Homo sapiens: one gene and its partner. The protein of the gene in region 2 purifies or fractionates together with the protein of the main gene of each other region. This does not show direct contact. Each region holds a gene or a part of one and is shown on either strand. Other genes may lie near its edges.

Region 1 (4,227 bases), about 150 Mb from region 2:
ATGCAAAGAATATATAGACAGTTCCTACAAAGAGCTAGTGGACTAGTTGCAGGTATCGGTAACCCTCTCTATGGTGTTTAAGTTCTGCTCCTTATTTTGTTCACCTACAGAGTAGGAAGTTCTAACTAGAAAAGACACAACAATGTTATCTTTTTTAAAAAACAGGTAAGGTAATTTTAGGCCAGAGGGAGCCAATTTACTAATTAATTTATCAAGAGCTACACAGTGACTAGTAGCACATTCAAAACTGGAAGCAATTTTTGTAACAACTAATATCTCCAAGTCCCATGTGGCAGAGACGGTGCAAAGGTCTTACTAGAGCAGAGGTACAAAGTTTTGATCCATTTGATCAAAATTGATCTTCAATTCTCCTTCAATCCCATCTCTCTTCTTCACCTCCCCCACGCTCGTATTTATTCTAAATTCTTTAACCTTTACTGATCCTCACTACTCCCTTTCTTCTGCCTCTGGAGTGAAACTATGCCTGGACACCACTCAGATTTACAGGGGTGGGACTGCAGATAAAGCTGAACTGCTTGAGATTCTTTATCCTTAATGAGCCTCTAAAGGAAGAAAAAATCATGCTTTGGACAGACAAATTGCCCGAGCAGGAACAAAAGGTAAAACCAAAAGGGGACACGCGTTTTAATGACTTAGGGAGAGGACTTGCAAGCTGCTTAGACTGGGACGAATTAAGACTAAATGCAGTGGGGTGGGAACTAGCGGGGAAGCGGTCATGCCCCCCAGTCTTCCCAGGGAGGAAATGCCAAAGCGACGTGCTTCAGAGAAAGCTTTGCGGTTTCTTTCATACGTATATGAAAGGGCCCTTTCTTAAAGGGTAGGGAAATTGCGTCTGAAGTCTGCGGGTCCCGTCTTCCCATTGTGAGGGATCCCCACTCTGGGAGGTCGCAGGGCCCATTTCTGGAGAAAGACGGGCCGCCTCTCTGTTGTGTGGGAGAGACTGTTTCCCGGCGCCTGGGCCTTCCTGTGGGGTCTGCGAGGTCCCCTCCCCCGGGAGGTGGGACCCCGGGGCAGCGCCTCGCCCCGCAAAGTCCGTTCTGCCTCACGGCGCAGGACTGGCGGGGGAAGCGTATAGCAGCTCAGCACCCCCTCGCGCCGCGTCACCCCTCGGCGTCTGGAGGACCCTGGCCCAGCAGCGGACCGGGCCGGCCGCCCGCCACGAGCGTGCGTAACGTGCCCCCGCAGCGTGACGCACGGGCCGTGCCGGGGCGGATGCGCGGGATGCGGGCCGGGAGGAGCGCGCAGGGGGAGGAGTGCGGGCGGAAGTCGGCGTCTGCTGAAAGGAGAAAGGAAAGGGAGACGCTGCTGGGTGCGGCGAGGTGAGGCTGGGAACCGGCGGGAGGGCGCCTCCTCCTCCCCCGCCCTCTCTGCTGAGGATGGAAGTGACGAAAGCAGCCGAGGAGGTCACTTCCTGCTGGGGTGGATGAGGAGGAGCCGGAGACGCCGCGGAGGAGACCGGACCGAAGACGGACCGTGCCGGGAAGAGGTGAGTCCCGGCCTCGCCTCGGCCGCCGGGGTGTCTGGGTTGGATCCGGGACCCTGGCGGGGACGGCGTCCCTGGAATCGGGGCCGGCCGCCAGGCCGCGTACCCACCCAGCTGGGCCTCACCCAGTGCGGGGGGCGGGGGAGGGTGGGATCCCGTGTCTGTCTGAGGGGCGACAGGGACCCAGGGCAGCGTTCATGCGGTGGCCCCGCGCAGCCCTGAGGCCACGGTTAAGGGAAGCCCGGCCCGGGAGGTGAATGGCAAGGAGGTTCTGGGGGCTGTGGAAGCCAGGACCCGGAGCTGCTGCGGGAAACCCGCAGCGCCAGACTGTGCATGCCTCACTCTTCGGGGAGTGGTCGCGATCAGAGGAAGGGCAGGGGTCCTGTGGTTTGCAGAGTTGAGACGAGTGGCCCTACTTGGATGGAAGTGTCCTTGCAGTGAATATGCGAAAGGCGTGCAGAGGCGCCCCAGGGCTCCTGGGAAAGGGACTTTTATGGGGAAAATTGGAGAGCTGGAGTGTCAAGAGAGGGTTTCCTTGTCAGGTTATCGTTGCAACGGGATTTGGACCCCAGGGTCGTGATGGTTGGAGGGAGTTCTGTGGCAGGGTAAAAGGCCTCGCGATCTGACAGCGCATCCTAGGAGTTAAGAGTCCAGGGCAGCTTCCTGGAGCAGTGGGGAAATTCGTGTTTTTCCTCCCTCATTGTCACTAAGGTGGAAGAGGAAGCTCCTGCCTCAGCCCCGGTGCCTCGTTATTATGTATCTCGTGTGTGTGTGAGAGTGTGTGTGTGTGTGTGTGTGTGTGTGTGTGTTTTTCCTTGTCTGCTCCTTCCTTTGGGGTGTTTATCTTGTCCTCGGCCGCTAGTAGTTTTGTAGACTGACACTTGCTGGTCTCCTTAATGTGTTTGGTGAGAAAAAATATTCAAAAGATCTAGAGAAATCCTAGGTTAGGTGAAATTTCCAAGATAAGGAATTTGTCCCTACGCGGGGGCCACTTAGGCATTCTCTCCAGATGCCTGCTAATGTGGATGCTGAGGGCCTGTCATCCACCCTGGGGAACAGCGAGGGTAGATCTGCCCTCCCTCCATGTCCCTCTGGCAGTTTCACCCCTCCCTCCTTTTTGCTAAGTGATTAACACAAAGCTCCTTGCTGGGAGGAACAGGAAATTTATTGAGGAACTGTAAATCTGGATGGAATGAATTCAAATCGCAGCAAGACTCCTTCCACTCACTGGCCAGAAGGGCTTCAGAAATGCCTGCTTTTCACCCCTTCCTGTTAAATGGAGAAAATGTATAATTTTTCTCAAAAAATTTTTGAGAGTTTGTGTGTGTTTTTTGAATAGAGTAAATGTACATATGGTGTGTTTACTTCCTGTATCCCAGGGTATTTTTCAAGGGGGAGGGAGCAGTTTGTGGCTGGGAAGAATCTTCCTTCTATCTCACATAATTCAGTAAAATAAATCAAAATCAGATGTTCATTCTTGAGTGGGAATCAGATGGATTTGGGATTTTTTCATCCTTTAAACTGGTACATCTTGGTGAACTCAGGCTTGTGTATCTTGGCATGTGGGCTTGTCTAGTAATAGAAGACAAACTGTTTGACTTGTTTTGGCTGCGTTTTTGGACCCATTTCACTGTACCTTCCTTTTTTATTTTTATTTTTTTACATTTGAAGGGTTGGTCAGGAGGAGGAAAACAAATATTAAAGACAGTGTTTACACTTTGTGGTTTAAAGTCAGGTGAGAGATAATTATGGCTTTTGAAGCTGATGACCTGAGGCCCATCATTTGATAACTTGGGGAGTAGCAGTTTGGAGGTGACATGTTTGAAAGAAAGAGAGTTGCATACGGAAAGAAGAACAGGGGAAAGGAAGTTTGGGGAGAGACTGCCAGAAAACTTTTGAGAGGATACTAAATAAATAGCATCTTAAAGTAATTGTGTGGCTTGTGTCTCTCAGCAGGCGGGTGAAAATGAAAGCCGGCTGTAGCATCGTGGAAAAGCCAGAAGGAGGTGGAGGTGAGCAGAAGTTAATCATCTCTGATGTACCTGGAAGCTTCCCTCAGTGGTTCCTGTCCTCTCCACTTGAGCTCTGTTCACAAATGTCAGACCATGACTGACACTCTCTTGGCTAGGTGGATACTGGCAGGACAGTTGTAGGCTTGTTTCCTATGGATGTATATTTAACATGTCTGGTCACCACACCCATATCCTAAGCTTTAGAGTCTCTTTGCTGTCAGAGACACAGTTCCAACCTTAGGGAAAAGGAGTTTTCAGCTGTATTTTCCTGAAACATTAGTTTATCTTTCCTGTTTGTTCCCTTTAGCACTTTTATGTCCTCACAGAAAGTAGGTGTATTTAGTAATGTATGAAAAGGTCAGCTTAGGACATCTGGTTGCTGCTGCCCAACTCTTATCAGATTTAATGATTGCCACAAGGATAGGTGACTTCTCTGTGCTTTCCTCTCCCCATTGTGGTTAGGCCCAGCTGACTGAGAGTACTTACAGCATGTTTGCAAAGCACTCTAGATTCTGAGCAGTGGAATGTGCAGTTGGGGTTGCTGGTATGTATGTACCTACCTCTTAACTAGCTTAATCTTGACCTTCTCACATGAAAGGGTATCAGTTTCCTGACTGGGCCTACAAAACAGAGTCATCCCCAGGCTCCCGGCAGATCCAGCTGTGGCACTTCATCCTGGAGCTGCTGCAGAAGGAAGAGTTCCGCCATGTC
Region 2 (4,127 bases):
TGACTTTTTTAACCTATCTGCTACAGGGCAAATTAAATCCGAGATGTAATCCCAAATCAGGGCTAACACTGAGATAGTATAAACTACCCCCATCTCCTTAAAGCTCACATATCAGTAAATATATTTGCTTTCTTGGGGACAGAGGATTGAGTGGTTATTTGTTAGAAAGCGCACACACACCACTTTTACTTGGTTAGCCCCGAGCATTAGGGTAAGGTCTGCTGGCCTGTTTTTGCTTCTCTATCCTAAGTAGAATAGAGGGTCTGATAAGGCTGGATGCCTTCACTGCCCAGCCCCAGACGTGTAATCCCCTTTATGAAGAATTGTCCTGGTTGCTGCCCTTTTGTCCCTTACCTGTTCCCTTTTGGCTTCTGCTCCCCGCTTGGTTGCCCTGAACACCAAAACAAACCCCGGGCCTCTGTCACTGCTCACCCTCTGATTTAACTTTAACTTTTTATCCTGCTGTAAGTGGTAATGGTAAGAATTTAAAAAGAAGATACTCACATTTTGAAAGTGTTTATTGTAGAAGGAAAAGAAACGTTGAATGTTTAAAACAAAACCACAATATTTTATTTTTACAAAGTGAGATGCTTATTTACAGCATTTATTATTAACTATAACACCATCTACCTTCAGTTTTCAACCATTTCCTACAGACAAAATTTAAAAGGAAGCTCCTTGAGCTTGTTTCTTACAAAGTAAATAAAAATAGATATACCTGTATTAACTATGAATATTTTAAGGCAGTTTTGTGCCGGCATCCATGAGAGACTCTGTCCACCTCCTGCTGGTGCTTCATTCCTTTCAGTGCTGTACATGACCAAGGCGAGCAGGGGCAGTGCTCAGAGTCTGATCGCCAGATGCAGTGCCCTGGAGTTTCCTCCCCGCAAGTCCAGCCTGGGTCAGTTCCAGCCGAACAATTTTTGTGTTTTAAAAATAATGTGTAGACTCAAGATAATTTCACTGGATTTAAAAATAGAAATACCATTTCCCACCTGCCTCCTTCACTCCTTTCTCTAACACTCAAAGGCCTATCCTTTGAGAATCAAAATAATATGGTTCTTTTTAGCAAAGGGATTTGTGTTTTGCCCTCACATAGCCTAAGCCGTAGAGAAAATAGATAAAACGATCTCAAAATTATTTTCTTTCACAGACAAATCATGTGGAAAAGACAAGCTACTGCTATGTCAGGGATCTTGGGCAGAGAGACCCCACTCAGTCTACCACCTTGAGAAGGATGTGGCAGGACCCAGTGGGTTTAAATAGTTCATCCTGTTTACTGTAACATCCTTGGTACATATGATTTTTTTGTGCTCCTTGGAGACTTATTCTTTCTTTGGAGATTATAGGCTGTTTCTCAGTCCTACCCTTTCTAACACTCTCTTCCTGTCCTCATCTGCCCTCATCCAGTCTCCACGTGTCTCAGTTTCTGTATCCGTGCTCCACGGCAGCCTCCTTTTAAGGCTTGAAGTCTTCTGGGCGGATTTTCATCTCCACCCGTTTGAGGGAGTAGGTAGATCCATGCCAGCCATACCAGGTGATGCCATCCAGGTGCTTATTGTGCTCACCCAGGCGGTAGTACACTCCATTGAGGTTGGAGTCTGTGCAGCAGTTGTACCAGTAGCCACCTGGCATGAGAAACAGACCCAGTGCTAGTAAGTTGACTGTGATAGACCAGACATCAGGTAAGGAGTTAGAGCCAGGGTCAGAAAGAATACCAAAACCGGAATATCAACTGTACAGTTATAATTCACTCTTTCTCCTCAAGTGGGATTATGAGCTTGTACCTGAACTTCTCCTTTCCGGTCCCCCCAAATCTCACCTTTGCGGAGCTGTGCACACTTGTCCAAGCAGTTGTCATTGTCCTTGTCCTTGGTGCTGAAGGCTGTGTTGTTATGATACTGGAGGGCGTCGTTCCCCACATTGCCAGTGTAGTTCCCCAGGAAGAGGCGATAGCTGTTGAGTTCATTGCCCAAAACAAAGTGGCTATACTCAGCGTAGCGCAGGTTGCCCTCCCAGTCCTGTCAGGAGGAGCAGAGCCTTAAAGAAAGTGCAGCAGGCTCCATTTCATGCTGTCTCTATACCCCTTCTCTCCTGACAGTCCCATAGCCAAACATCTTTTTATAGGTGTGAATCTAATAAGACTTTATTACTTGTTTACCTCCAGTTTACTGTGTTAACCTGGGAATCAGAAAACAAGGCTCGAACTTCTTTCCTGATTCACCATATGGCCTTGATTAGTCTCTCTTTCTATATTCCTCACTTTCCTGCTTATAAGGTGCAGCTATGTTTTTGCTGAATCCCACACAGAGCTGCTGTAAGAGAAACATGAGGATATAGTGAGTGCTTTCAGACCTTCAGCAAGGGTCCCCAAACAGTATCAGTAAGATTTGCACCTAAAGGACCTCATGCTCGGCCAGAGCAGAGACTAGTGTTCGGCACAGCTGACTGTTGAATTTGCTCTACTCTGGCCTGGGTCTGGCCTCTTCCTGTCCCACCTGCAGCCCCACTTTTGTCGGGGGGTTGGGGGGGTTGCAGAAAGGAAAAATACCTATTTTTCCTCAACTCCATTACAACTTGCAGGAAAACCATCACAATGAATATACAGATTTGTCTTGAATCAGAATAGGAATGGCACCCCCGGAGTTGTACGCGGTCATGTGTGGTGGCACTGGTCCAGTCATGGGGCCCCTGGCCTTGTGCTTACCTCCATCTCTACACGCAGCCGGGTTGGCTGTCTGGAGAGCCGGTGGATGTGTTCGTTCCCCAGCCAGAAGTCCCCACGGATGCTGCCAAAGCCCTGCTTGTACTGCTTCCAGTCCCGGTAGAAGGAGACAAGGCCACTTTTTCGTCTCTGGATGATGGTCCAGCCTCCGCCTGAAGTCTCCATGTCACAGAACACCTGAAGCAGAGGGGATACTCTGGTGAGGGACTTGCAGGGGCAGAAGGCAGGAGCAAGAGGGCAGGCTTCCCAACCTGTTCCTGTCCCTGCAGAGCCAGTAGATGTGTGCACTCCCGCAGTCACACTGGCTCACTCGGGCAGTGATGCTGCCCCACTGCTGGTGAGCTGGGGTGGGTGGTGCATTGCTCTGGAAGAACGATGCAAATTGGGCCCGGGGGTGAGTGCACATGAAGCTTGGAGGGAAAAATCCAGATACTTTTTTTTTTTTTGAAGCAGAATTTCACTCTTGTTGCCCAGGCTAGAGTACAGTGGTGCAATCTCGGCTCACTGCAACCTCCACCTCCTGAGTTCCAGTGATTCTCCTGCCTTCCTAGTAGCTGGGACCAGAGTGCCTGTCACCACACTGGGCTAATTTTTGTATTTTTAGTAGAGACTGGGTTTCAGCATGTTGGCCAGGCTGGTCTCAAAGTCCTGACCTCAGGTGATTGTTCCGCCCACCTCACCTCCCAAAAAACTTGGGATTACAGGTGTGAGCCACCATGCCTGGGTGAAAATCCAGATAATTTGATGCTGCCTTCGTGTTTTCTTTTCTCCTCCCCCAAGGAATAGCTGTTCTAGGACATGGCAAGAGATTTAAACTAAGTTATGTGGTGGTTATAAGAATGATCTGATCTATGTTAGAAGGCTTGTTGTTTGACTGATAATGATTTGAAGGGGCCAAACAGATGCCTGGGTTTGGAGTGCAGGGCATAAACTGAGTGTTTGCATAGCTCTGTGGTGTTTGGTGTGTTTGCTTGTGTTTGAGTTTTCCTTTTTTTTTTTTTTTTTTTTAATTGAAATGGAGTCTCACTTTGTCTCCCAGATTATAGTGCAGTGGCGTGATCTCGGCTCACTGCAACCTCTGCCTCCTGAGTTCAAGCAATCCTCCTGTGTAGCAGGGATTACAGGTGCCCACCACCATGCCTGGCTAATTTTTTTGTATTTTTAGTAGAGACAGGGTTTCACCATGTTGGCCAGGCTGGTCTTAAACTCCTGACCTGAAGTGATCCACCTGCCTCGGCCTCCCATAGTGCTGGGATTACAGGTGTGAGCCACTGCGCCCAGCCGAATTTTCCTTTCTTTAAACTGTGAATGGCCCTGTTGTTGTAGTCCCCTTGAGGGGGTGAAGGACAGGTATTAGGGCATGGCCAGTGACTGTAATGACCTCACCTCCAGTTCAGGGCTG

What was found. Proteins that work in one complex are often made in the same cells at the same time.
Region 1: the proteins of ANGPTL7 (region 2) and ETV3 purify together in Homo sapiens (affinity purification with mass spectrometry; one large-scale study listed by BioGRID and IntAct). This does not show direct contact.

What each region holds. Positions count from the first base shown.
Region 1 is NC_000001.11:157,135,596-157,139,822, reverse strand, and holds the start of ETV3 (ETS translocation variant 3), read left to right. Parts: upstream 1-1,427; 5' UTR 1,428-1,507; intron 1,508-3,457; 5' UTR 3,458-3,470; coding exon 3,471-3,516; intron 3,517-4,114; coding exon 4,115-4,227. UniProt on the Homo sapiens protein: Transcriptional repressor that contribute to growth arrest during terminal macrophage differentiation by repressing target genes involved in Ras-dependent proliferation. Represses MMP1 promoter activity.
Region 2 is NC_000001.11:11,192,355-11,196,481, reverse strand, and holds the end of ANGPTL7 (angiopoietin-related protein 7 precursor), read right to left. Parts: coding exon 4,112-4,127; intron 2,903-4,111; coding exon 2,708-2,902; intron 2,316-2,707; coding exon of another isoform or gene 2,238-2,315; exon of another isoform or gene 2,073-2,237; intron 2,022-2,072; coding exon 1,823-2,021; intron 1,629-1,822; coding exon 1,459-1,628; 3' UTR 501-1,458; downstream 1-500. UniProt on the Homo sapiens protein: Has a role in the formation and organization of the extracellular matrix.